Regions from separate parts of the Homo sapiens genome. Here all the other regions are linked to region 1. The links come from fine-mapping of genetic effects on gene expression. A gene starts in region 1. Each other region holds a variant in brackets. All regions are shown on one strand. Distances are from middle to middle.

The links. PIP is the estimated chance that this variant, and not a neighbour inherited with it, causes the effect.
Region 2: its variant is fine-mapped to the expression of PLA2G4A in whole blood (TOPMed, PIP above 0.99).
Region 3: its variant is fine-mapped to the expression of PLA2G4A in putamen (GTEx, PIP 0.94).

What each region holds. Positions count from the first base shown.
Region 1 is chr1:186,823,827-186,832,551 of GRCh38, reverse strand. PLA2G4A (phospholipase A2 group IVA) reads right to left here and starts at 3,603. Exons shown (of 18, transcript NM_024420.3): 1 at 3,517-3,603.
Region 2 is chr1:186,974,064-186,982,788 of GRCh38, reverse strand. It overlaps PLA2G4A (phospholipase A2 group IVA), which reads right to left. Exons shown (of 18, transcript NM_024420.3): 16 at 5,001-5,196; 17 at 3,317-3,474. Among named protein-coding and RNA genes, the nearest start is that of LINC01036, 110 kb to the left of the region's middle. The variant G/A (reference allele first, on the strand shown) is at 3,894.
Region 3 is chr1:186,001,903-186,010,627 of GRCh38, reverse strand. It overlaps HMCN1 (hemicentin 1), which reads right to left. Exons shown (of 107, transcript NM_031935.3): 29 at 6,784-6,910; 30 at 3,346-3,500. Among named protein-coding and RNA genes, the nearest start is that of HMCN1, 270 kb to the right of the region's middle. The variant C/T (reference allele first, on the strand shown) is at 4,763.

The DNA.
Region 1 (8,725 bases):
TGATGGCACCCAGTATTGACATAGAAAACTCTACTCTTTTATATTGCTCATAAATGAATACCATATTCCTCAAGAGCAAAATGTCAAAAATAATCACTAGCATTCCATGAGATTTCGCTAAATATTTTAAAGAATCCTCAAAATACCCAACTATTATTATTTCTATTTTACAATTGAGAAGACAACATTTTAAGGAGATAAAGTAATTGGATTATCATCTCACAACTTGTAAGTAATAAAATTTTTTTTAGAACCTAGAAAATAAACTTTAAGAATCTACCATAAGGAAATAAACAAAAATGTATACTAACATATATAAAAAAGGTCCTAGATGAAATATTATTTATAATAGTGGAAAACTATTATAAATCTAAATATCCAACAATTATTTATAATAGTGGAAAACTAATCTATCTAAATATCCAACAAGATATAATTGGCCAGTACAGCCTATATACAGATGAAAAATTTCATATAGTAAGAACCATACTCTTTTGCTCATGGATAGATTGCCATTACTTGCATTACACACAGTAGGGACTTAATAATATTTGTTAAATATGTGAATACAAAGTAATGCATGATTATTAAAAAAAACATGTTTTAACAATGCATCTCATGAATGAGGGAGAAGCATGTTACAAAACAGCATGAACAGTGTGATCACAATTTTGTAAAACTACATGTATGTATAGAAACATATCTAGACATATAAACATGTATATACATGAACTTCTTGTCTGTCTCTTTGCTGATGCATACTGGGTACTCAATAGATATTTGTTGATTGAATTAATGATTGAATTACATTTTAAAAGTACCTTGGGGGAAATAATAGGTAATATTTTCTTTTTCTTCCTTGCAATTTTCTATATTTAATGAAATTTTAAGCAGTGAGTGTGATTTATCTTTATAATAAACAATAGTGTTATAAAAACTAATCATTCTGGGAAATGTCATTAGGAATTTTGGAATAAAAGTAGTAAATATAGACACCCCACAATCCAATAAAAAATAACTTGCATCTGATTTTCTTATTATGTTTCACTTACTGCATTCGGCAATAAAAGCAACAGATGTTACAGAAAAATGTCAAGCGTAATATTGTACAGTTAATTATTATTGGGGTTGAGTCTAGAACCTAGGTCACCTGGTTTCAGGCAAGCAGTTTTTTCCATTATACCAAGTTGCTTGGAGTTCTAGAATACCAATGAATAAATGACTATGTGGGTGCTACAATATCCACTGTTAGTTCCTTACTTATAAGTAAAATGATTTTATAATTAATCATTTTATATTATCAGAAAACTCCAAAGTTTTAAGAAATACTGCATTTTCATGTAATATGAATTGTCTTTGGGGATTTGTGAACTTCTTAAAGGTGTTTTTAAATTTGTGTGTGTTGGAATGGCATAATGTGCATTATTCTAGGGAGGGGTCCATACCTGTCACAAGATTATAAAAGTGTCTTTGATGGAACAAAAACAAAAGAAAGAAAAAGAAAAGAAAGAAAAAGTAAGAAAGAAAGAAAAAGAAAGAAAGAAAGAAAGAAAGAAAGAAAGAAAGAAAGAAAGAAAGAAAGAAAGAAAGAAAGCAAGCAAGCAAGCAAGCAAGCTATACAATCTGGAGCAAGAAGGAGGAAAAAACTGATGGTAAATAAAAGCAAACAAGATGAATGGGAACCACAACTAATTCTGTCTTCCTCTTTTTTATTCCTGGAACATAATTTTAATATGTAGATGATTCGATTTTATGACTGCTTTCTAAGTACCAGCACTAGAAAAGATAATGGGTTAAAAACATAAGCCAAATAACCTCTATGGAATGAACATTTTCAGTTGCTAAAAATCTATTTAATAATTTTTCTTTTCCTAATTAAATGTAAATGCAAAAATGCAAAACACTTCAGAATAACTTACTTTTTTTTTTTTTTTTTTTTTTTTGAGACAGAGCTTCGCTGTTTTCGCTCAGGCAGGAGTGCAATGGCGCGATCTTGGCTCACTGCAACCTCCACCTCCTGGGTTCAAGCGATTCTCATGCCTCAGCCTCCCAAGTAGCTGGGATTACAGGCACCTGCCACCACGTCCGGCTAGTTTTTCTATTTTTAGTAGAGATGGGGTTTCACCACGTTGGCCAGGCTGGTCTCGAACTCCTGCCCTCAAGTGATCCACCCGCCTCGGCCTCCCAAAGTGCTGGTATTACGGGCATGAGCCACTGCGCCCAGCCAGAATAACTTACTTTTTAAAAATATGTTAAAAAGATGCAATGTCTTATCTCAAAAAATATGCTTCCCCTAAGGGAAGTTTGTAAAACTCCTTTGAGCAAATGCACATTAAACACTTCTCTATGCATTTCACAATTATTGCTTAATTTAAAATTTAACTCTTCCGGAGCTAATGAAAGAAGTAAATACCTGTTTCTTATCCCAACCTCTAACTTGATTGGCAAGGTGTAGGAACCTGTAGAATGTAACTTTAAAATTCTTAACAGAGCTTGTTTCACTACAGTCCTCTACAAATATCCCTTGAGCCACAATTCTAAATTTAAACAACAAAGAGAAACAAAAATACAAATCTTCTTTGAACTCAAATTATATTGGCAAATATAACTTTAGAATTGACACCCATTCAGACAGTACGCCTCTAATACTCTCCATCTGCCTTAGCTGAATAAATGCTGACATCATCAACCCATATGAGGAGTATTTCTTGTTCTGGTTTTGGAGGTGAATTTATTTTTAAGACTAAAATGATTATAAATTGTAGGAGACAGATACATTCATCCACTGATACTTTAAAATCAAATACCTTTTTTTTCTGTTTTTTTTGGAAACAAAATTACTGAAATATCCACACTCAAAATTTAACTATGTAATTTGATCAAATCTTTTCTAGTATCTAGTTTTGAGATTTTTTTTTTCTCTTGGCAAGCCAAGTAACTTAGGGGAAGGGTGGATCATCAGAACACCAGTCCGTTTACAGTTAATTTTTCAATAATCCTCTTTCTTTCGCATAATTCTGCAAAATATTGACTAGCCAGGAAAGCGTCCCATAAGTAACAAAAATGACCAATTTTTAGAAATTAAAAGTTAAGTGAGTCAACAAAGTCTCTCGCTAAAGATCGCTAGGGCTGTCAAACAGCACAGCATGCTGCTGCTCAAGTTTGGGGATCAGTAACCATTGGGTGTCATCACGTGGAACGCTAATAAGCGCCACCTCACCGCCGTTTTGAATGCTAACTTTCTGGGATTCCAACCCAAAGAAACACCTTAATCTTTGACTCCACAGTGCATTTAGATCCAGGAAGGCAAATCTGCGTGGGTTTGAAGAAAATTGAGGTCCCTAATCTGTGTTTCACTTCAAAAGGCAGAGGACATGCTGACTTTTTAAAGCAGCGAGGTTTCCCCTCCGTCCTTTCTTCCTTCCAAGTAAACTACCAAGTAAAAGCTAAGGAGGGTGGGAGAGAGAAGTGGAGCAGAGGAAGAATAAATATATTGCTTACAGTTCCCAGAGTTACCTGAGAATCTTCAGGCTCCTCAATGCCTCTAGCTTTCAGTCAGGATCCTTTTTCAGCTCCGGACTTAGAGAAAGTCTTATCCTGAGTAGGAGGGGCTAAAATGTGGGCTGGTCTCCTTGCGCTTTTGCAGATGTTTTAAGGTGGAATTAAAGGGGAAGAGGGAGAACGCTCTCTTCTCATAGAAGCTAATATTGTAAATGTAAATGCTTAGTTATTAGAACCAGGAGTTTGAAGTCAGAAAATATGCTTAAATAATATGTAAATTAATCAGTCCTAAATTCCATGAGTGCTGTTGTGGATTTCTGTGTGTGTGATGTGTGTGTGTGTGTGTGTGTGTGTGCGTGCGCGCGTCTGAAATTGCTACTTGTCCTTAAGTAGTAACTACTTCCTCCTTTTTTCCAAAGGAGAACAAAATTGAAAAGACAGTGAATAACCTAGAGCATTTTTGCATTATTTAAAAAGGCAAAGTTTATAACAAACCCCAAATATAAAAATGTACATTTTTAAAAAATGAGTATCAGACCACTTTAAAAATCAAATCTGTTTAAATATTTCCACTCCAGACTCAGAACACCTGTGTTGATAATAATTTCTTTGTAAATTTAAGATTAAAGGCATACCAAATAATGTAATATATATGTTGAGATTTAGGGAAGAAAATGAAATCAGGTTGAATTCCAAATTTGCAGTGTAAATCCAAATACCTTATAGCACTGTAATGAAGAAGGTGCATTGTTTAAATGTACCCAAATTCCATGAGAATCAATTCATGTCTTTAAAGATTGACATGTTCATTTAGTATATCTTGTTTTTCAAACACAGGATCTTGTTTTTGCCTTTAATTAAATACTGAACTCACTCTCCTAACTCTCTTACAATATTTTCAAAGAATATAATTTCACTAAATCTTCTGGAATATCTGCTTTCTGTAGCCCAACATTCAACTCTTATTTGTTTTTATTTTTTTCCCCTAAATTCAACCTGGCATATTATAAATCTCTCTTTGAAAAAAAAAAAAGCCAGTAATGTCTTTTTTAGGAAGGATAGATTTATAATAAACATTTTTCGGGCTGGGCACGGTGGCTCACGCCTGTAATCCCAGCACTTTGGGAGGCCAAGGCGGGCGGATCACGAGGTCAGGAGATCGAGACTATCCTGGCTAACACGGTGAAACCCCCGTCTCTACTAAAAATACAAAAAATTAGCCGGGTGTGGTGGCGGGCGCCTGTAGTCCCAGCTACTTGGGAGGCTGAGGCAGGAGAATGGCGTGAACCCGGGAGGCAGAGCTTGCAGTGAGCCAAGATTGCGCCATTGCACTCCCGCCTGGGCCACAGAGCGAGACTCCGTCTCAAAAAAAAAAAAAAAAAAAAAAAAAAAAAAAAAAAAAAAAAAAAAAAAAAATTTCTCTTTCCAAAGAAATCCCTGAATTTCTAGAAAGGAGGTGTATGTTAATTAGAGGAGCAGAGAGCACACTGGTAGTTTTCATCTCTTTCCCCCAGACACAACTGGTGAAAGAAAGAATCTATACTGCAGGGCATGTTCGTTCTAAGACTCTGATAAAAAAGACTCCCTGGAAAAGCAGCTTCACAGTGCTTGCTTATAGAGCACAAAAAAAGTGCTCTAGTGCTTTTTTGATAACAAAAAGTTATAGCTCTCAATATTTCCAGATGATATCCAATAGTGTGTCATGCATTAAAGATAAAAAATTTATTTAAACGCTTTTAAAGAAAATGTCATTATATGTCATGGTTAGGGTTAATATATACGGGGAGAAGTTTGTCTCTTTCCCGCCTTACTAAATGAAGCTGATTTATCTCCACCTTTATAATGAATAAAGGCTGCTGCAGGTATGTCTTTTCCTCTCTGGAATCAGTGCAGACCAAATCCCATTTACCCATTTTGTGGTTCTATGGCCTCCTTATCTCATCTATTTTGGCTCACTACTTGTGATCTCACTGTTCACATAGACCCCTAGGTGGATAGTACAAGTTCAGATTTGCCGTCTTCACTTTGCCCAATTTCCTCCAAAAATATTTTCAGCATTGACCTACTGACTTCAAAAACCTCTGCTTCCACCTTAGGTAAGATAGGCCCTGACTTCCATAGCGTGCTTCAGTCTATAGGATCAATTATGTCTGAAGACCCCTCTCCACTTGGTTTGTCCATCAACAAAGATTAGTCATCTGGGACCCATCTGAAACTGAGAAATATCATAGCAGCTTCTTTGAATCCAATTCTACCATTTGCACTATTTCCAGCTAATAAGTTTCATGCAGTTTGCTAGTAATTTTCCACATCTTTAAAATTTTAGAAAGAGAATAATAAGCTAAGAACTAGATAAGTAATCAAAAGGAACAACCCCAAAACTGGCCAAATTAACTAACAAAGAACACCTACTTGTCAAAAGCCATGGCTCAAAAACCCCAGGGGGTTGGGAGGGGGAACCCTGATGTTTGTATGATTGATTTTTCTTTCTTTCTTTTTTTTAATTTTACTTTAAGTTCTAGGGTACATGTGCACAACGTGCAGGTTTGTTACATAGGTATACATGTGCCATGCTGGTTTACTGCACCCATTAACTCGTCATTTACATTAGGTATTTCTCCTGATGCTATCCCTCCCCCTGCCCCTCATCCCACGACAGGCCCCCGTGTGTGATGTTCCCCGCCCTGTGTCCAAGTGTTCTCATTGTTCAATTACCACCTATGAGTGAGAACATGGGGTGTTTGGTTTTCTGTGCTTGTGATAGTTTGTTCAGAATGATGGTTTCCAGGTTCATCCATGTCCCTGCAAAGGACATGAACTCATCATTTTTATGGCTGCATAGTATTCCGTGGGGTATATGTGTCACATTTTCTTAATCCAGTCTATCATTGATGGACATTTGGGTTGGTTCCAAGTTTTTGCTATTGTGAATAGTGCCACAATAAACATACATGTGCATGTGCCTTTATAGTAGCACAATTTATAATCCTTTGGGTATATACCCAGTAATGGGATGGCTGAATCAAATGGTATTTCTAGTTCTAGGTCCTTGAGGAATTGCCACACTGTCTTCCACAATGGTTGAACTAGTTTACATTCCCACCAACACTGTAAAAATGTTCCTATTTCTCCACATCCTCTCCAGCATCTGTTGTTTCCTGACTTTTTAATGATCGCCATTCTAACTGGTGTGAGATGGTATCTCATTGTGGTTTTGATTTGCATTTCTCTGATGACCAGTGATGATGAGCATTTTTTCATGTGTCTGTTGGCTGCATAAATGTCTTCTTTTGAATGATTTTTCTTTCTTTATGTGGAGTTGTTTTCTGTTATCTTTTTTACTATTTCCAATTCACCTATCTTCTGCTCTAACTATATGAAACTGCTTTGTTTCTGATAAACTTGAGCAGGGTAATGAGGTAGTATATGAGAATTAAATCTGGATAGAAAATGAAGATGATTAGCCAGCATAGGGTACTAAGAGAGAGTTGAATAGGGAATCTAATCCAGATTGCAGGTAAAATCAGAAAATGGCTACCAATCAACTAATTTACTTATAATAATGTATCCTTCTATTCCACAGGCTATGCTTGAGTCTTCTGGTCCAACTGTATTTATAGTAAAATAATAAGTTGATATTTTTGCTACTTATTTGTATCTGTGAATATAATTAACATGAATCATTTCTCTTTTTAGGTATTAACAAAATCAATCAGGTTAGTAAAATAGCAAGTCACAGAAAATGATTTTCTCACCTTGTCAAGTTTTCTGGCATCCCACTAATTGACCTCTACCTTTCATTCAAACTAAGAGACTATTCTCCTTGCACATCGTTTCCCTAAATTCCACTAGAATAATCCTACTCAACCTGCAAGGCTTAGCTCAAGTACTATCTTGTCTGGAAAATTTCCCTACCCTTTTCCCTGTCCAGCAGAATTCATTATTCTACTTGTATGAGAATGCTCATTAGAGCACTGATCATGTATTATACTTGGCTATACAAGAAAAAAAATATTTTATATTCCATCAGGGCACAAGGCAAGTCTTTCTCATGTTAATAAACCCTCTTTTCACCTGAAGTTTATAACACATTGGGAGCTCAATGGATGTTTGTTGAATTTGTTTTCCATGATATCAGGGTCAAAGATATCTTAAACCTGACACCTAAATAGCACTCTACCTGCCACTGCCATCTCCATCATTACTAAAGAATAGACATTTTATTTTTTTAATACCCTCCAATCCACACACACACTGATAAATTACTGACAATATAAAACTAACAAGAAGTAAGGATGAAATGGACCCTAATTAAAATGTATTTACCATGAATTTAAAAATCAGATGTTATGATGAAACTACATTTTTCAGGAGAGTGTATCTGTGAACAATAAGACCTATATTTTATAGCTAAATATCTACTAGTAGTTACACCTACATTTGCAAAGATCTTTTGACCTAAACAACGGAAGCAATACTTTTCTCTTACTTTGAATTGAACTCATTAAACAAATTATTACTGCTTAATTAAACTTTTCCCTCCTTTTTAAATAAATACATTAGGAAAACTATAACAAATAAAGTACTACTAAGATTGACTGTTACTCTTTATATAGAGCCTATAATGGGCCAGGTACTTGTGTTAGTACTACATTTGTTGTATCACTAACCATTATATTCATGAAATGAGACATTATTTTCTTTATTTAGAATCTCGATATTCAGTAAGCATATAAAATTTGTAGTGAGGCTGGGATTTTAATCAAGTCGGTCCAACTCCAAAGCCCACAATTTTTCTAGTGTATCACACTCTCTCATAGCAAGTTTTGTTTGGCCATATTTTCAGCTTTGTCCCAAGTCAACCAAATCTCTGACTGTTAGGGAGCAGTGGTAGTGGAGTTACTAATAGATAATTAAAGCCTCCATTATCCTAAGCACCCAGGCTAGGAACCTTCTACTATTCTCTTCCACATCAGCAATTGTCAGAGTCTTGCCCCTTTTCTTCCTTCAACCCACCCAACTCCTTTATTTATCTTCTGGTTTCTATCTTCACATTTTTATATCTGCATTTTCCTGTCCATTTTACTATCAAAATATTAACTTGTACTCTTGCTTTACTATTACTTACATATACTACCATACAATCTTTACTCCTGCATCTCCTTTTCAGTCTTAAAATCATCCTAGCCTTCACTAACAGATAGACATTCCTACAATTCAGGTC
Region 2 (8,725 bases), 150 kb before region 1:
GTGTTTTCTTAAAGTGGAGAAGAAGGGAGTCACTAAGGCAAGATAAAATGTCAGTGAAAACTGAAAATTTTATCTGTTTATGAAACACACACACACACACACACGCACACACACACAAAGAGGAGTTACTTGAACATGAGTCTCAATGTTCATATAATTCAGGAAAAAGCCTACCTTCATTTGTTCATTCAGAAAATATATACTGACTGCCTAAGCTGGCATTACCTGTACAAACTTGTCTATGTTGTTAACCTGAGGCATTTGCAAAGGTCTTTGGGTGTAATCCCCATGGACCTTCAGGGGTACAAGATAAGGACATGTATAGGTAAGGTTCTCATTTATTGAGCAGCTTCTGTAATCATGCATCACCCAATTAAACATTCACTACTACAATTATTATAGATCCTACCACACCTGTTTCAGAGACGAGGAAGTGGAGGCTCAAAAAGTTTAAGCAGCTTATTCAAAGTCACATGTAAGAGATTTAAAGATGATATAACGCCCATGACCTTGTCTGTACATGCTGTGCCAGAAACTGTAGCAGAAGCAATTAAAAACTGCTTAATTCTCAGAACTAAAGGACTTGGAGATACAGGAAAGATTGCCCTTTATGGCTAATGCTTTTAGCGTCAAGTTTAAAGAATATTTCCCAGGGTCAAAGTCATAAAGATACTCCCCTGTGTTGTATTCTAGAAGCTTTGTTTACTTTTATACTCAGATCTACAGTCTATCTGATATTGGCTTTGTTGATAATGTGAAAGAGGTACATTTAATTTTTTCCTTTGTGAATAATCATCTGATCACTTTTTTTATTACAGATAGTCACAATTTATTCAAGGACGATTTTATTTAGTGCTACTGTCTGTCCTTGGACAATGTCATGTTTTCTTAATGTTATCTTGCTGTCTTTCTATTTGGTAAAGTAAGTCTTCTAACTTCGCTTTCTTTCTTCAAGATGAGTTAGCCTACTTTGGTCCTTTTCACTTTCATATTATTTTTTAATGAATTTATCAATCTTCTTATAAAAACCTGATGGTATTGTTACTAAAAATGCAGGGGAAATGGGGACTTACTAGTTAATGGTTACAGAGTTTTAGTTTGGGAGGATGTAAAATGTTCTGGAGATAGATGGTGGGGTTGGTTGCACGATAATGCAATGTACTTAATGCCACTAAACTGTACACTTAAAAATGGTTAAAATGATAAATTTTATATTTTGTATATTTTATAACAATAAAAAGTGAAAACATATTTTTAAAACTGCTAAATTAATGGTTTCTGAAGAATCAACATTTGATGAGGTGTATAGGTCGGGACAGTTGTTCTGGGATTCAGTCTATTTTTGTTCAGGCACTAACTTTTACATCTATGTGTCAAACAAACTACTTTGAAGAATGTTTGTAAAATATATAAATAAAACTGTATCATTCCTTATTGCAAATTGTTTAGCAGACTTTATATAAACTAGAACAGCAAGACAAATGTATTTGGTTAAGATACACATATGTATATCTACTCCCAAGTCCAACATGGTATTTGTATATTCCTACAATCTGTTTTTTCCATTTGAGAAAGACTTATCAAATTTAATACAATTCATCCCAAGGAATGTGTAGTTTTGAGTTTATTGGCTCATACTGGAAAACTAGGGTGACTGTGATATTAATTCTTACCTCTGTTTTAGTAGCATGAGGTTTTATAAAATGCAACTAACTCTATTTTGAGAATTTATGTTCACTCCCTACAAATCAGAGATTAATCATTTTTTCTCTTAACCTTTCAATTTTTGCCATCACCATAGAGATAATGTATCACGTGGATTTCAGATGTCCACTGCTTGAAATATTTTTTCTAAAAAGGAAACAAATCTATGGAGAAAATGACATATGCTATATATTTTGATAAGCATTTTTAGATGAATTATCATCTATTTGTAAATGAAGGCTGAAAAAAAGAATTTTAGAGTTGTAAGAATCAAGGCTTATTGGGGAAAATTTTACACATTTACAAAAATTAAAGATATTAATTAACAAATATATTATGGTGCAACTGTGATGATTGCATACAGTTGATATTACTAGTCTCAGGCCAAACGAAACAAGCAAGCAAACTAGATGTGTGGAGTTCTATTAGCTCACAAAATCTAATTAGAGCCCATATAAACAGAACACTCATTCACATATTCTGAATTCCTTTGCGCCATTTACACAGTCACCAAAAAGACTGGTAAATCAGACATGATGCCTTTCCTTCTCCATTTAATTTCTTTTTTTCTGTTTTTCTAATGTACAAAATCCAATTAGGCCACTGAACTTAAGCTTTTACAACTGATAATCATTTGTCAGACACTATGATTTGGAACCACAAGTCAATGATTTCAGTTACAGAATAGTGTTCCTATATGGTAAGTTAAAAATGAAAGAATTTCACCTAGACACAGAATCTTAGCAGAAGATACACTAATGATAGGAAGGATTGATACTGAAGACAATGATTTGTTTCTAAAGCAAAGCATACTTGACATCTCAAAGGCTAAAAATTGGAAAGGCTGGCCGGGTGCGGTGGCTCACGCCTGTAATCCCAGCACTTAGGAAGGCCGAGGCGGGCGGGTAACGAGGTCAGGAGATGGAGACTAACACGGTGAAACCCCGTCTTCACTACAAACACAAAAAAATTAGCCGGGCGTGGTGGCAGGCGCCTGTAGTCCCAGCTACTCGGGAGGCTGAGGCAGGAGAATGGCGTGAACCTGGGAGGCGGAGCTTGCAGTGAGCCGACATTGCGCCACTGCACTCCAGCCTGGGCGACAGAGCGAGACTCCATCTCAAAAAAAAAAAAAAAAAAAAAAGGAAATGCTGTTACGTTTTGTGATGCTGCTCTCAAATTCACAAAAAGAAAATATGTAAAATCATAAATGTATTTATTAAAATTCATGTTATATTTTTGCAGATTAACTACACTTCTGGTTCCATTCACTTTCATACTCATATTTCCTTTACTCATATTTCCTTTTCATCACTTTTCTTCCTTACTTATAATTTGTTATATCATATAATAAATACATAGATACTTCGGGAAAGAAACTGAGTATTAACCAATCATTCAATAAAATAATAGCATAAAATGAGTTTCCTTATTTGTCAGTTTTGTAGGGTTCTTCTGAAGATTAGCAAAATATTTCATGAAAAGTAAAGTGGCATATTTTGGGTGGTGTCATTCATAACACTTATTTTTTTATTTTTAATTGAAAAGAGGTATTGGTGTATTTATACGGTATGGAAGTCATTTGACATAGTCAATGGCCATAGGAGATACTTACATCAATGTTGTTCAGAGTATTGAAGTGCATAAGATCATGTAGTCTTTTGAATGCTTGATTTGGATATTGAAAATTGAAGGTTGAAAATGGTGATTCTGGGTCATCAAAAATATCAAAGTCAGCGATTTCTTTCTCTTCCTCAGTTTCCCTTGGAACACCTAAATACCAGAAGAGTCACAAAGGGTGTTATTTTGAAAACTACAAAATATCTCTAAAACCCAAGGAATAAAACATACAGACATAAAGACAGCAGTGGGAGTCCCCACAGAGCCAGGTACTCTGTAGCATCTCTGACTTTTATCGTGTCTGTGTGTTCTGGCCAGATGACATCCAACTGCCAATATCTGACATCTGTGTGCCGGAGGGCTTTCTATCCTGCCCTGCAACTGTAGAAGCCTGCTTGACCCACTCACAGCAGGCTGGAAATTCTGTTAAATAACACTGTTCCCCAGGCAGTGGTCAACCAAAGACTCTAGGGAGTTAGAATCTAAATACTCCATTCCCCTGCCTTTTGGTGTGCGTGTGGGAAGCATGATTGTGGGACACAGGTCTATTCCATTTTGTAGTCTTTCCCAGC[G/A]GATCAAGTTCCCATTGTGGTAGCCGGCTTGCTAATGCAACTTTGTTGTCTGCCTTCCTTCCCTTTACCACTTCCCCATTTCCTTACTAATAAACTAGAGTGTTCCCCAGCTCATCTAAATAAACTATTTGCACTTGAGTCCTTTTCTCAGAATTAGTTTCTGGGAGAACCCAAACTAAAACATTATGTGGCTGTCTTTATGCCATGGAAATCCCCTACACATGCCAACTGCTCAGTGAGCCTCTCCTTGAGAATTCACAGTGATAGAAAATTCACTGGGTTTCATGTGCTCTAGTGTCTGATAACTAAAAATGTCAGATTTCCACCTTCTCCTATGCTGAACTATATGCTTCACAATAATCTTCACTCCTATCAATTCTTTCTTTGTCTTCCTGAGAAATCTAGAAAAACACCATTTTTCTCAGCATATTCCCATTACTCATCCTCCCTATTTTTTGTGTCTTTCCATTTATAAAATGGAAAACACATTTTCTGGTCCTAAAATATGGTTTTTGGAGCCTTAAGCACCCTGCATGTAAATCTTTAGATCTCCTTTGGTTAATCAACATTTTCCAGGATACACAAGAGTCGAGAGACCCCTCTGGATATGGTTAAAAAAATAAAACAAAACAAAAAAGACTATGCCTCAAACTTGATTCTTGTTTTCTGTGAAATACAACATGGCAAACTGAAACTGCTAGCCATTGTGTACTGCTAGATTACGTTAATCTTGTAGTCACGTAAAATTCCCAGAAATTTGCATGATTTTTCTGAAATAAGGGCTTTCTTACAAGGGTGATAGTCAAAATATTTGATTAAAAATCAATCAGAACAAACATAATTCAAAGTATTGAAGTAAAGTCCCAGAGATTTTTGCTAAACTGGTTGTTGACTTTGCAGTTTCTGAACTGTGAGCAAGTCAGGGGATCTTGGGGTAAGAAAGAGGAGAAGTACTTGAGGTCTCAGAATAGTATCTATTTATCAAGGTAAGGGAAGCATTCAATAGTGTAATAGCTGGTACAGCAGTGACAGAGTGAAACAGTTTAATGTCAGTTTCGTCCCCTACTTAATTTCTATTTTATGGAATACAGCTTACTCCCTACTTACCTGGAGCCCTGTACTTTCTGAAGTTGATGTTGGCCAGAACAAAGTGGATGATGGTTGGGCAATCTTTCTCCATATCAGGATTCTTGGGTTTAAAGACATAGCACTCCTTCAGCCCTTCCCGATCAAACACATAAGGATCAATCTTTGGAAAGGGGAGCTTGTTCATTTTAGCCCACTTTTCTGCAAGTAGAAGTTCCTATGGGAAAGATGGAAAGATGAATTTGGAAATTTTCAGTTTTCATTGATTCAGTTGGTCTGACCATAATTCAGTGTTCACTAGGTGTCTACTGTGTGCCAGCAATGTACTCCTTGCTAGGATGAATCACGACCCTGTTCTCAGGAAGTTCATTAATTTCAAAGAAATTGAAAACAAACTCACTATTGTTATGTTAATTCTTGGCACAAGGCTAGCTCCACAGCAGGCATTTGAAAAATTATTGATAAACTGAACTGAGCAAAATTATGTTGAAGAAGCTGCTAGAGAAAAAAAATTATGGGTTCAGAGAATTTATAACCATGTGAAAGTTTTTTTAACCCTTAGGAGTAAAAAAGGAATCTGATGATGCAGAGAAGAATCCTGTTACTGGATTTTTACCTGTATCATCTCCACCAAAGTGTTAAAAAGTACCAGCCAAAACTTCATTCATTTTATGTATACAAAAATATTTGAGTTACTCTGAATCAGCTTTTTGTCTTCTTTTTGTGAACAGAAGTTGAACCTTTGGCCTCAGAGCATTGCTATTACATGTAACGGCCAAGAGAGGACTGTACAGATGTACCAAGGGCTTAGTTAATGGTCGTGGCAAATTGTATGATGGTTTCCATGTATTAGCTCCCTTCCTGGTAAGCTGGTTATACATTCCCGCCAGAATGAGAAGAGAAATAGAACAGAGCCTCCACGGGTGATTTATGACTGCTGGCATGTAAGTGGCCAAGAAATACGTGTTCGCAGTCAGCTACGGAGATTCGAGGTTGGTTTGTCTCTGCACCAAAGCAGGCTAACTCACTGGGGTAAGCACCCCCAAAATTAAATTTAAACTGGAGAACATAAATCAATATGGAGAGATGCAGTGAAGAGACCTCATTTCCATTATGTGCATCTTCAGGGAGAGCAGAATAAATAAGAAGCAGAATATCATAGTGGGAGAAGCACAGATTCTGGGACCAGATGCCTGAGTCCAAATGCAAGCTCCATGGCCTTGGACATGTTTCTTAAGTCAATGTTTCCATCTCAGATTTAAAATGTGGATGATATAAATAATACCTATCTCATAGGGTTGCTATTAGAATTAAATAAATTAATACTTTACAGTGCTTAAAACAGTGCTTACTACATATTAAGTGCTATGCAAATGTTTAATAAATAAATGCCAGTAAAGAGAAGAAAAGAGATGGAAGGAAAAAAGTAAGGAAAACAAAAGAGGATAAAGAAAGGGAAGAGAGATAAGAACATTAGAGAGGAAAATTCCTGGAAAGGGGAAGTTTTGGGGATACTGTCACTAGAATCTTAAGTTCTTTTTAACTACTCTTGTCATCTCGTTGATCCATTCCACAGCAATCAATAGTGGTCGACTAGGTTCCATGTTAGAAGTGGGGACATAACAGTGAGTAAAACATTCATGGTTTTTGTTGTTATGGGATTTATAGCCTGTTGGGCGAGAGATAGCAATCAAATAACCCTTTGTGCTTAAAACTGTGATAAATGCCAGGAAAAAATACAAGGTGAGACTTTGCAGTACACCTGGACAATTTCCTCAGAGTATTTGTTAATTCAGCCAACAATTATCAGTGAGTTATGTTCTAAGCATAAGAGATAGGCTGTCCTTGAAGATTTGGAGTTTATAAATCAACAGAAAAGATAAATAGATATTATAGAAAAGTATGATAAAGGCAGGAAGGTGCTGCACGATTGTGGGCCTGGGTTGTGCAGCGTGAAAGGCCCAGCTCTAAGACAGACACCCTAAAACTTGCTAGCTGGATGACCTGAGACAAACTAATTAGACACCACAGCTCAACAAGAAACAAATTATTTTTGGTGGCTGCAGTGTACAGTGATACTCCCCTACAGGCAACGCAGAGATAATGAGGAACGAACAAACACAGACTAGATTATTCACTATCCCTGACATAGCAGGCTCCCAATCCCATCTCATCTCTATTTCATCTGTTTCTTATTTCTCAGCAATTCATTTTTCTACCTCTGTAAAATAAAGCTAATACCATCGCCTTTCTCATAGGATTGCTGAGAGGATTAAATGATAAAATGTATAAAGACCTCAGTAGTTTACATTAGAAGAAAACAAGTACTTTATCATACAGGCTTACATTCAGAGAAAAATACACTTTTCATTGAACTTTCACTGCTCTTTTTGCTTCTGGAATGTCATGAATTTTATGTTGATCAACTCTCTCAACACCACTTATGAATAAAAATCTAGGAGAACAAAGGATTTAATGTATATGAAAGCATTTGCTTCATAAACTATTATGATAAATACAATTACATTTCACTGAAAATCCCATATGTATGTAAATAATTTCTTGTTTGAAACTTGAGAAAGCTTTTATCACCAATCTCTTCTTTTTTTCCCTCTATTCAGCTAAATTAATCAGCTTGTTATTTCTTGTCCAGCACTGTTCACAATTATTCACTCGTGATTATTCAACATCAAAATAAACCAAAAGTTCACATTGTGGAGCAATTGCGTGAGGGCAAAGAAAAGAAAGAGCTTTCTAGTGTTTACAAACATGACTCAAGGGTATGACCAGTGATGTGTGGATTTTGGGGTAAAATGAAAAGGGAAATACATGAGGTAACAGTGAGGCTATTTTTAGATGGTTCACTTCACGCTAGAATCAGGAAGAGATGGAAACTTTCCCTTTCCTTATGTGATCCTGATGTGGAAAAGATTAAAAACAGATGATTGCAAATACAGTGATTATAGCATGGATAAACCATTTCCTCTCTGATGTCTGGTTTCTCTCTGTAAAAGCTGAGAAACAATGACACAGACTATGAGTAAAGTGCAATAGTTTTTAGAAAGTATTTTAAAAGATTTCAGTGAACAAAAAAATTGCTGCTCCACAAATTACAGCGATATGCCGGAATTGTGTTCTATGATAGCTATCCATTTTGGTTATTGTTTGACACCTCAGATACTTCACACTTCCATAGACTAACTTAAGATAAACTTACATAGTATTAACTAAACTGACTTTCTGTGGGATAAAAATTTGACAGTATCCTTCAAAGAGATACTTCGTAAGATGTCTGTGCTCATTTTGGTGTTTTGTTTGACAGAGTCTCACTCTGCTGCCCAGGCTGGAGTGCTGTGGCCTGATCTTGGCTCATTGCAACCTCTGCCTCCCAGGTTCAATCGATTCTCCTGCCTCAGCCTCCTGAGTAGCTGTGACTACAGGTGTGTGCCACCACACCTGGCTAATTTTTGTATTTTTAGTAGAGAAGGGGTTTCACCATATTGGCCAGGCTGGATGCCCTCATTTTTGAGTACTGAAACACCACTAAGAAGACTTGAAGGAGAGGAATGACAAATAAATACCATAGAAATGAATATTGTAAATAAATGTTATTTGTAAATAACAGAAATATATTCAAAACACAGTATGATAGCATATATATGCCATTTCATTCATTTACATGTAAAAAAATATAAATATATATTTTAAATATATGAAACAACACATTTATTTATTAAAATACGAAC
Region 3 (8,725 bases), 820 kb after region 1:
TGCCTATCAAACTTTGGCTCAAATTGCATAAATCGCTGGCCAGCCTAACCACTTGGATAATATATTAATGAAACCAAGAACACAGGTTCAAACAAATCCACATACTTTGTGAATTCTTTAGAAAGGATACCATTTGTATCAGGAAGGATCTACTTTAAAAGTTTGTATTTACGAAAATGAGAAAAATTACTCAAAGAATATTTGCAATTGATGGTGTAATAACATAGCATCCACTGCTTAAATTTGACAAATACATAAATATTTCACTTCCTCTTCCATTTTAATTCATACATATTTGCCAGAGAACTATACTTCCATTTGGGGGAAGGGAATACAAATAAAAATTATGAATACACTGCTCATTAAACTGTACATATATATGCATGTATAGATACACCCATGTACCCCCACACACACACATATATACACACAGACACAGACACACACACAGACACGCACACCCCTCAAGACTTTTATGCAATTTAGGGCAGGAGTTCCCAACCCCTGGGCCATGGAAGGGTTCGGATCCATGGCCTGTTAGGAACTGGGCCCTACAGCAGGAGGTGACGGACGAGCAAGCATTACCACCTGAGCTCTGTCTCCTGTCATCTCAACGAGGGCATCAGATTCTCATAGGAGCGCGAACTCTATTTTGCTGGCTTCTCGTGAGAATCCAACTAATGCCTGATGATGTTCAGTGGAACAGTTTCGTTCCACAAAACCGACCCTGGTGCCAAAATGGTTGGGGACTGCTGACTTAGGGAAGCTCTCAAACCTCCAAAACTCATCTGTGGACCACAGTTTACAAATCTTTGCCTCAGAACTACTAGTAAATCTGCACAATCTCCTGATAGGATATTAAAACTTCATTTACTTTTTTCCCTGTTTGACATTCTTCTTTTTCTTTTTTATCCTCCATCTCTTTTATTTTTCTCTTGTATTTTGTCTCAGTTTCTTTCCTTATTCAGGCACAATGTTCATTTATACCTTTTAAGTGTATCAACCCACCTGCTTCATTCTCATAGCAGTAAGTAAGGAAAAGGAATGAATCAAGTGTAGTATGAAACACACTCTCAATCTGAAATCTACATATGTATTCTTCACAGTTAGCCAAAGCATGATACCTGTTTTACTTTTTTTTTTCATTTTAAGAACAAAAGCATTTTCACAAGTGAAATAAATTTAAGCCTAAGAGATGCAGGCGAGCATTGCTAAAGAGGAAATGACACTATTTCCTGAATTATAATATTCAAAACTTTGCTACATGACAATGCCTTTTATCTCAGACAATCTCAGAAGGTTTAATCATTATAGAGCCCTCTTTTCTGGGTGCCTGGGGGCATCATACAGAGTGAACAAGAGGATCTAAAATGAAAGAACCCAAGTCCCATGGAAATAAGAGTCTTATTGAATCACCAAAATGTATTCATCACAGATCCTGGCAAAAATACAATAGTGCAGAGAAGACTACTCAACAGCTTGGGAAAAATATTGCACCTATTGTTTAAAAGTCTGGCTCTGGTGGGAAGCCAATGGTACCAATAGCACTTCTGTTTAACTTGGATGCTTGTATAGTTAATCTTTCAGCAATGTTATTCTTTTTTAGAGAACATGTCTTTTCATGACTAATTTCTTCCAAAGGCTTTTATTTATAGATATAAATGATTTAAAAGCCTGTATTAAATATAATTTCTTTGATTCAAGAAAGCTATTTGAACTTTACATAAAGACAGTAACATTTAAAAAGGGAGATTTGGAAAGCAATTAAATTACATAGAAATCAAGCTAGATTCTATATGTACATTAAGTTTTAAGATGATACAATCACTAATTAGATAATGATAAATGAATAACATTTATTGGGCTCTTACTATAAGCTCAATAATCCACGTAAAGTATCTAGCATTTGATCTTCACAATAACACTACTGCATAGGTGCTATTATTATCCCCATTTTAAGGCTGAGAAAACTGAAGCCCAGAGGGTTTAGGAAATTTATCCACAGTTACAAAGCTAGTCAGTGGCAGTGGTTGGGCCTCAACACAAACTCTTATTAATTACTCAACCAGTGTTGTTCAATAGAAATCAAATGCAAACTCACATATGTAATTTTAAGTTTTCTGGTAGCCACATTAAAAAATATGGAAAGAAACAGAGGAAATTAATTCTAATAATACATTTTACTTTGCCCAATATATCCAAAATAACATTTTGGATATAATCAATGTAAAGTTATTATTAGATATATTACATTTTTCATATTAAGCTTTTGATATCTGGTGTGTAGTTTATATAACAGTGCATCTTAGTTTGGACTAGCTACATTTCAAGTGCTCAATAGCCTCACGTGGCTAGTGACTACCATATTAGACAGTGTAACACTAGACCATTCATTCATTTAGCAAATATTTCTTGAGACTTGCTATGTATCAAACATTAAAGTAGGGAACATGCAAAACAAAAGCCTACTCTTATCAAGTTTAAATTCCTGGGAAAGAAATAGATCATAAGTAAATAAACCTATAATTAAGCAATCAAATATCAGATAGTGATGTGTGCTGTGAAAACAAGAGAGTAAGTAGGTGACTGCTTTTAATGGGAAGATCCTATGAGAAGGTGACATTCTAAGAGGTGTCTAAATTTTCCTTGAGCATCATACACCATGGAAAGACAGAAGATAGTGCAGTGAGCACTACAGGTCTATTGAGTTCCATTCCTTTCTATTGTATAAATCTTTGTGCTGGAAACATAATATTCATGTGCCTACCTATGGCTCCACTGGTAAAAATTAAAATGAATTTGGCAATCACGCTCCTCAGAAGAGGCTGATAATGTTACGGAAAATAAGAGCTACATATATTTGGTGGGGACATAGCTGGGAGAAAACAGTAGCACAAACACATAAGGCATTTAAAAGATAATCACATGGTCAGGATAACGGCCACGATGGAATTCAAATAGAATAATTGAATTGTCTGCATATCATCAACTTCATTCTATTTCATAAATCTCTATAATTTTTAAAGTTTGTTTTGTTCCTTTCAAAGATACAGACATTTGGTTTGTGTATATACTAACCAATTAGGAAATTCTTGCTCTCTCTAAGTGAGATTATATAAAAATCACTAGATCTTTTGAAGACAACCATATTTAATGAAAAAAGGCATTAAAATTTGATCCAATATTCTAGCCTTTTAAAACACATGAAGATAAGCTCCTTCTTCTCTTGAAGTATGTAGTATTCCAAATTATTCAGTATGAAATAAGAGTGTAGTTACCAGTAAACCCTGCTTGTCAACTTATAATGAGAGCAGACAATAAAAAGCATAAGACAATCGCACTTACTATAGATAGTCAGTTTTATATCCTTGGCTTGTTTGCCAGCTGCATTAGACACAGTACATTGGTAGCGCCCCTTGTCATTTCTCCGTGCATTCTTTAAATGTAAGACTTGTCCTCTGTCTAGAAGTTCAACATTAGGATCGCCCAAAAATAAAGGCCTAGAAAAAATAAAACTTTATTCCATGGGTCTATTTTCAGTTTTTCACATTTCTTATTTATCACAACAAAAATCATTAGTACAGGCTAAAAATACAAGTAAAAGTTAATTTAAAAAATAAAATGATATGATTAGCACTCCAAGAATAAAAGTTTTAAACCACTTTGCTAACAGAAGTTAGGTAATCATAAATATCTCTTTGAGATGAAAAGTTCCTCCATTTCAAACTTAAATTATATAATAATATTAATAGAAATCCAGTAGTGTCATTATTTGTTTTATTCATTCATCCATTCTTATTCTTTTTTCAGCTTTTTTTAAATTTTTTGGTTTGCATAGCTAAAATTCTACCATTATCTGGAAAAGAAAAATTAAGAGTTTTAAATATTACAGTATAGATTTTGGACCAAATAATATTATTTTTAAATAATATCATTATAATATCTAGAAGAGTATTCACAATATCATGAATGGTTATTTTTACTAAAGGCAATAATCATACCAACTTCTCTAAAAATAAGTATTGTAATAAATACAAATGCTTACATAATCATAAATATTGAAAGATATTTATGTCAAAAGAAGCTCGTATATGATTGTCAAGGAAGTCTTTTTCTACTATACAGAGTCATTTACTGACTACTATAAAACGCTCAGTTTATGTAATTGGCAGCAGTTTTATTTTAAAATTTGGTTGTTAAAGTCTATGATATCCTAAGACTCATACCTTTAAAGTCCATAAATATTTTTTCAGGAATATCCATAGCTAGTTTTTTAAAAGTTGCAATGACTTAGCCACATAATGAATAATTAGATGCACTGCCATATTCATAATACACTAGTAAGACTATGAAATTAAACAGAAAACATTTCACTTCCTATGGTAGCATATTTTACTATTTCTTAGTATGACACTTTGTATATAGCTCTCAAAAGTTAAGAGAATAAAGTAGCTTCATTTAGTGTGTTTTAAGGTTTTTTTTTTTTTTTTTGAAATGAAGTCTCACTCTTGTTGCCCAGGCTGGAGTGCAATGGTGCTATTTCAGCTCACTGCAACCTCTGCCTCCTGGGTTCAAGCGATTCTCCTGCCTCGGCCTCCCAAGTAGCTGGAATTACAGGCACCTGCCACCACGCATGGCTAATTTTTATATTTTTAGTAGAGACGGAGTTTCACCATGTTGGCCAAGCTGGTCTTGAACTCTTGACCTCAGGTGATCCGCTTGCCTTGGCCTCCCAAAGTGCTGGGATTACAGGCGTGAGCCA[C/T]GGTGCCTGGCCACATTTTAAGTTTTTAAAGAAATAATTGATAATATGCTGCTCGAATTTAAGTAACTTTGAAACTTTTATTGATTGTCAATTGTGCAAGTAACATAAAATTTTAAACAAAAAAGTAAGCATTATGATGAGAAAAAGTATCCTTGGTCTGTGGCCCCTAATGTGAGTCTGCTTTCCAGACTTCTCTTTATCAGTCTGATTTGTATTCTTCCATGTTTTTTACATTTATGAACATTTTTGTTTTTAACAAAATTAAACACATTTTTGTTTTTATTTTACATTTATAAACAATTTAAACAATTAAAAAATTGTTTATAAACATTTATAAACAATTTAAACAATTAAAAACTTGTTTATAAACATTTATAAACAATTTAAACAATTAAAAACTTGTTTATAAACATTTATAAACAATTTAAACAATTAAAAACTTGTTTATAAACATTTATAAACAATTAAAAACTTGTTTATAAACATTTATAAACAATTAAAAAATTGTTTATAAACATTTATAAACAATTAAAAAATTGTTTATAAACATTTATAAACAATTTAAACAATTAAAAATTTGTTTATAAACATTTATAAACAATTAAAAATTTGTTTATAAACGTTTATAAACAATTAAAAAATTGTTTATAAACATTTATAAACAATTAAAAAATTGTTTATAAACATTTATAAACAATTAAAAAATTGTTTATAAACATTTATAAACAATTAAAAAATTGTTTATAAACATTTATAAACAATTTAAACAATTAAAAAATTATTTATAAACATTTATAAACAAAAATGTTTATAAATATACTCCCAAAGATATCTAAAGTTTTAATATATCAATGGTGTCAGGTTATTGTTCTGCTTTTCTTTCACTCTATAACAGGTATGGAGATATTTTTGGTACACATAACTTGATCTTATTCTTTTTAATTGGTGAGCAGTGTTCCATAATATGATTATGCCGTAAAGTATCTACCTATTCTCCCAATGTTGGGTTTTAGCCAGCTTTCCCATCTTTGCCATCACAGTGTTGCAGTAAATATCAATGTACAAGCCTCTCTGTGGATATGCATGACTACTTCCATCTCCTGGATACTGCATCACAGTGTATGTGCATCAAATTTTAACAGATATCAACAAGTTGCCTTTTAAGGTACTAATTTACATCCTCCCCATCAGAGCACTGTATCTTGCTTTCCCATACTCTAGTCAACATTTGATAATTTCAAACCTTTGCTTTTTTGCCTATATGAGCTGTAAATAACAAAATTTTATTATTCATCAAATTATTGATGGTATCTTTTAATATGTTTATTGCCTTAGTATATTTTAACTGCCTGTTCATATCCTCCATATATTTTCTATTTTGCTGTTTGTATTTATTAGTGATTTATAAAAAGCTTGAATACAATCTTTTATTTTATATACCACAAATCTTGACTATTTTCTACTTAGGCCTTAGATATCTGTTCCCAGAAACTATAATACACAAACTGTAACCACCATTTGAGAAATAAATTCTCACAACCAATACAGACCACTGCAGCCATTTCGATGTAGGCACACCTCAGCAGTCCTTGAGATCTGGAGTTGGAGAAATATCTGTAGTTCCTTTTTGCCCATACACAGAACTAGCTTAGTATTCATTTTGCTGTCATAAACACATTTTCCTTTTTAATAAGACAGTTCAATGTAAACAGAAAATCATCTCATGTTTAGATCTTACATTTTTCACTGTCTTTAGACAGAGGATATTTAGTGTATATTAAATTTGAGTTCCTCTATATTTCTAAAATGAATTCCCAACATTCATAGGGAGCTTTGAATTCAAAAGAATGAAAAAATTACAAGACTTTCAGACTAGCTTTTGAGCAATATTGTTTTTCCTGTATGCTCATTTAATAATATTCTATGTAATAAAATAATTAAGAGGGAGAAAATCCACATGCATTTTTCACATCTTTTTCCTATCATTGAAACCTTGCAACAAATACAGAAAAGATACTCACTTGCCATCTTTGAACCAATGAATATCAGGAAAGGGAGTGCCTTTGACCTGGCATTCAAGGGCGACGTCACGGTTGAGGACAACTGAGACTTCATTTGGGAAGTTGGTACCTATTATGGTGGGTGGAACTTGAACAAAGACAGTGTATTATGAAACTCTGTTACTCAGCAAAAAGAGCAGGCATGGGGTTAGAAAGCAGTCAATGATTTCTATAGTATTTCAACAAGATCTTAATGTCAAAAATAAAATACCACACAACAATACTTTTTCATATCATTTCTGTGTACCCAAATGTTAAATTTAAATGTAGAAACATATTTATAAAATATTTGCTAGCAAGACAATTACCTTCAAGAATTATGACAGTATAGGGTTCATTTTTGGGTGTATTAAACTCATATGCAAAAGTAGTTTAGAATGTAAGTGATCAGTGATGCAAATGTAATTTGCTACTGCTATACATTTTGGATAATGAATGACAATTAACATCACTCTTATAACATTCAAATTCTACATATAGTGTGGTGCTACTTGAAATATATTACCTTTGTCTTTTAAACAACTAAGATGGTAAATTTGGTATGCAATATAACATGAAAAATAATGTGCTAGTTTTTATTCTCAGGATTATCAAGCTTATTAAAGAGCTTCTGGATACTTCCCTGTCTAGTCGTCCCCTTTCACACCATGTTAAAGTGCTTGGTCTTCATCCTCAGAAAAATGACCAGCCACTAAAGGATTTCAGTAGGGGAGGAGTGGGATGTAATCATATTTGTGTTTTAAGACCACACACTCCTAAGTGAAGAATGGATTACAGTAGCAAAAAGTGGATTCAGGTGAGCCCTTAGGCTATTACATTGATTCAGCTCATGAATGATGATAGACTTTCACAGAAGGATGAAAAGAAGTAGATCACCAAAGAATTAGGAAGTAGACATAACAGGAAATATGTAGATTTGAAATGTTGGGGAGAAGGTAGTAGTGAGAACCTGGAGGTTCTGGAATAACCAAGTGAGTGGATGGAGGTACCAGTCCCTAGACTGGGGATCAAGGAAGGCAACCAGAACTGGCTTTCACTGGGACCTTTTTGTTTGATATAAAACTAAGGTATTCAAGTCACAATACTATGGAGAAAATTAGCTATATATCCCTAGGCTCAGGGAAGAAGTCTGAACTGGAGATAAAAAATTGGGAGTCATCAGCACACAGATGGAATTCAGTCAAGGGAGCGGACAAGTACCAGGAGAAATAATGTCAGCAAGACTCATGATAACAATGATTTCGTAATTTGTTTTTATAACTCATACTTAAATATAATAATGGTGATTTTGTGGAAGAAAAATTTCAGGCTTTGAGAAGCCTAATGGGAGGAATTATTTGTATGTTATAGCAGTTTATGAATATAATTTTTATGCAGTATCATTCCTCCACTCACTTCTACTCAAGACTTACAAATTATGTGCCCATTGTAAGGAGCAAAATATTGAAAAGGGAGAATGTCATTTTATCACAAAGTGAATTTTAAATGGCAAATATAATTTCACAAACTAGAATTATAAAATTTTAAATTTATGATTACCATTAAAATGTCTTACATCCTAATTTATTACAGCTGCTACCTACTTAATTAGAATCAGGACTGACTTAGTTACAAGAGTTAATTAGAATGCAGGGGAAAGTGGATTTACTACCTTTTCCAGTTCAAGTACAGCCTAGCAGCTTCAGGATATGCACAGCATGAATGTAATATATTCTGTATCACCCTGTTATAGCCACTTCCCAAAGAATGTCGTGCCTACTTAACTGGAGAAATTGACAAGAGTAATAATTTCTTATTTTACACAAGATAGCAGTACCACTTTTGAGTATTTGATACTACTGTATATATGATTCAAAGGCATCTCTGTATTATAAATAATGAAACCCTTTAAAATTTCTATATC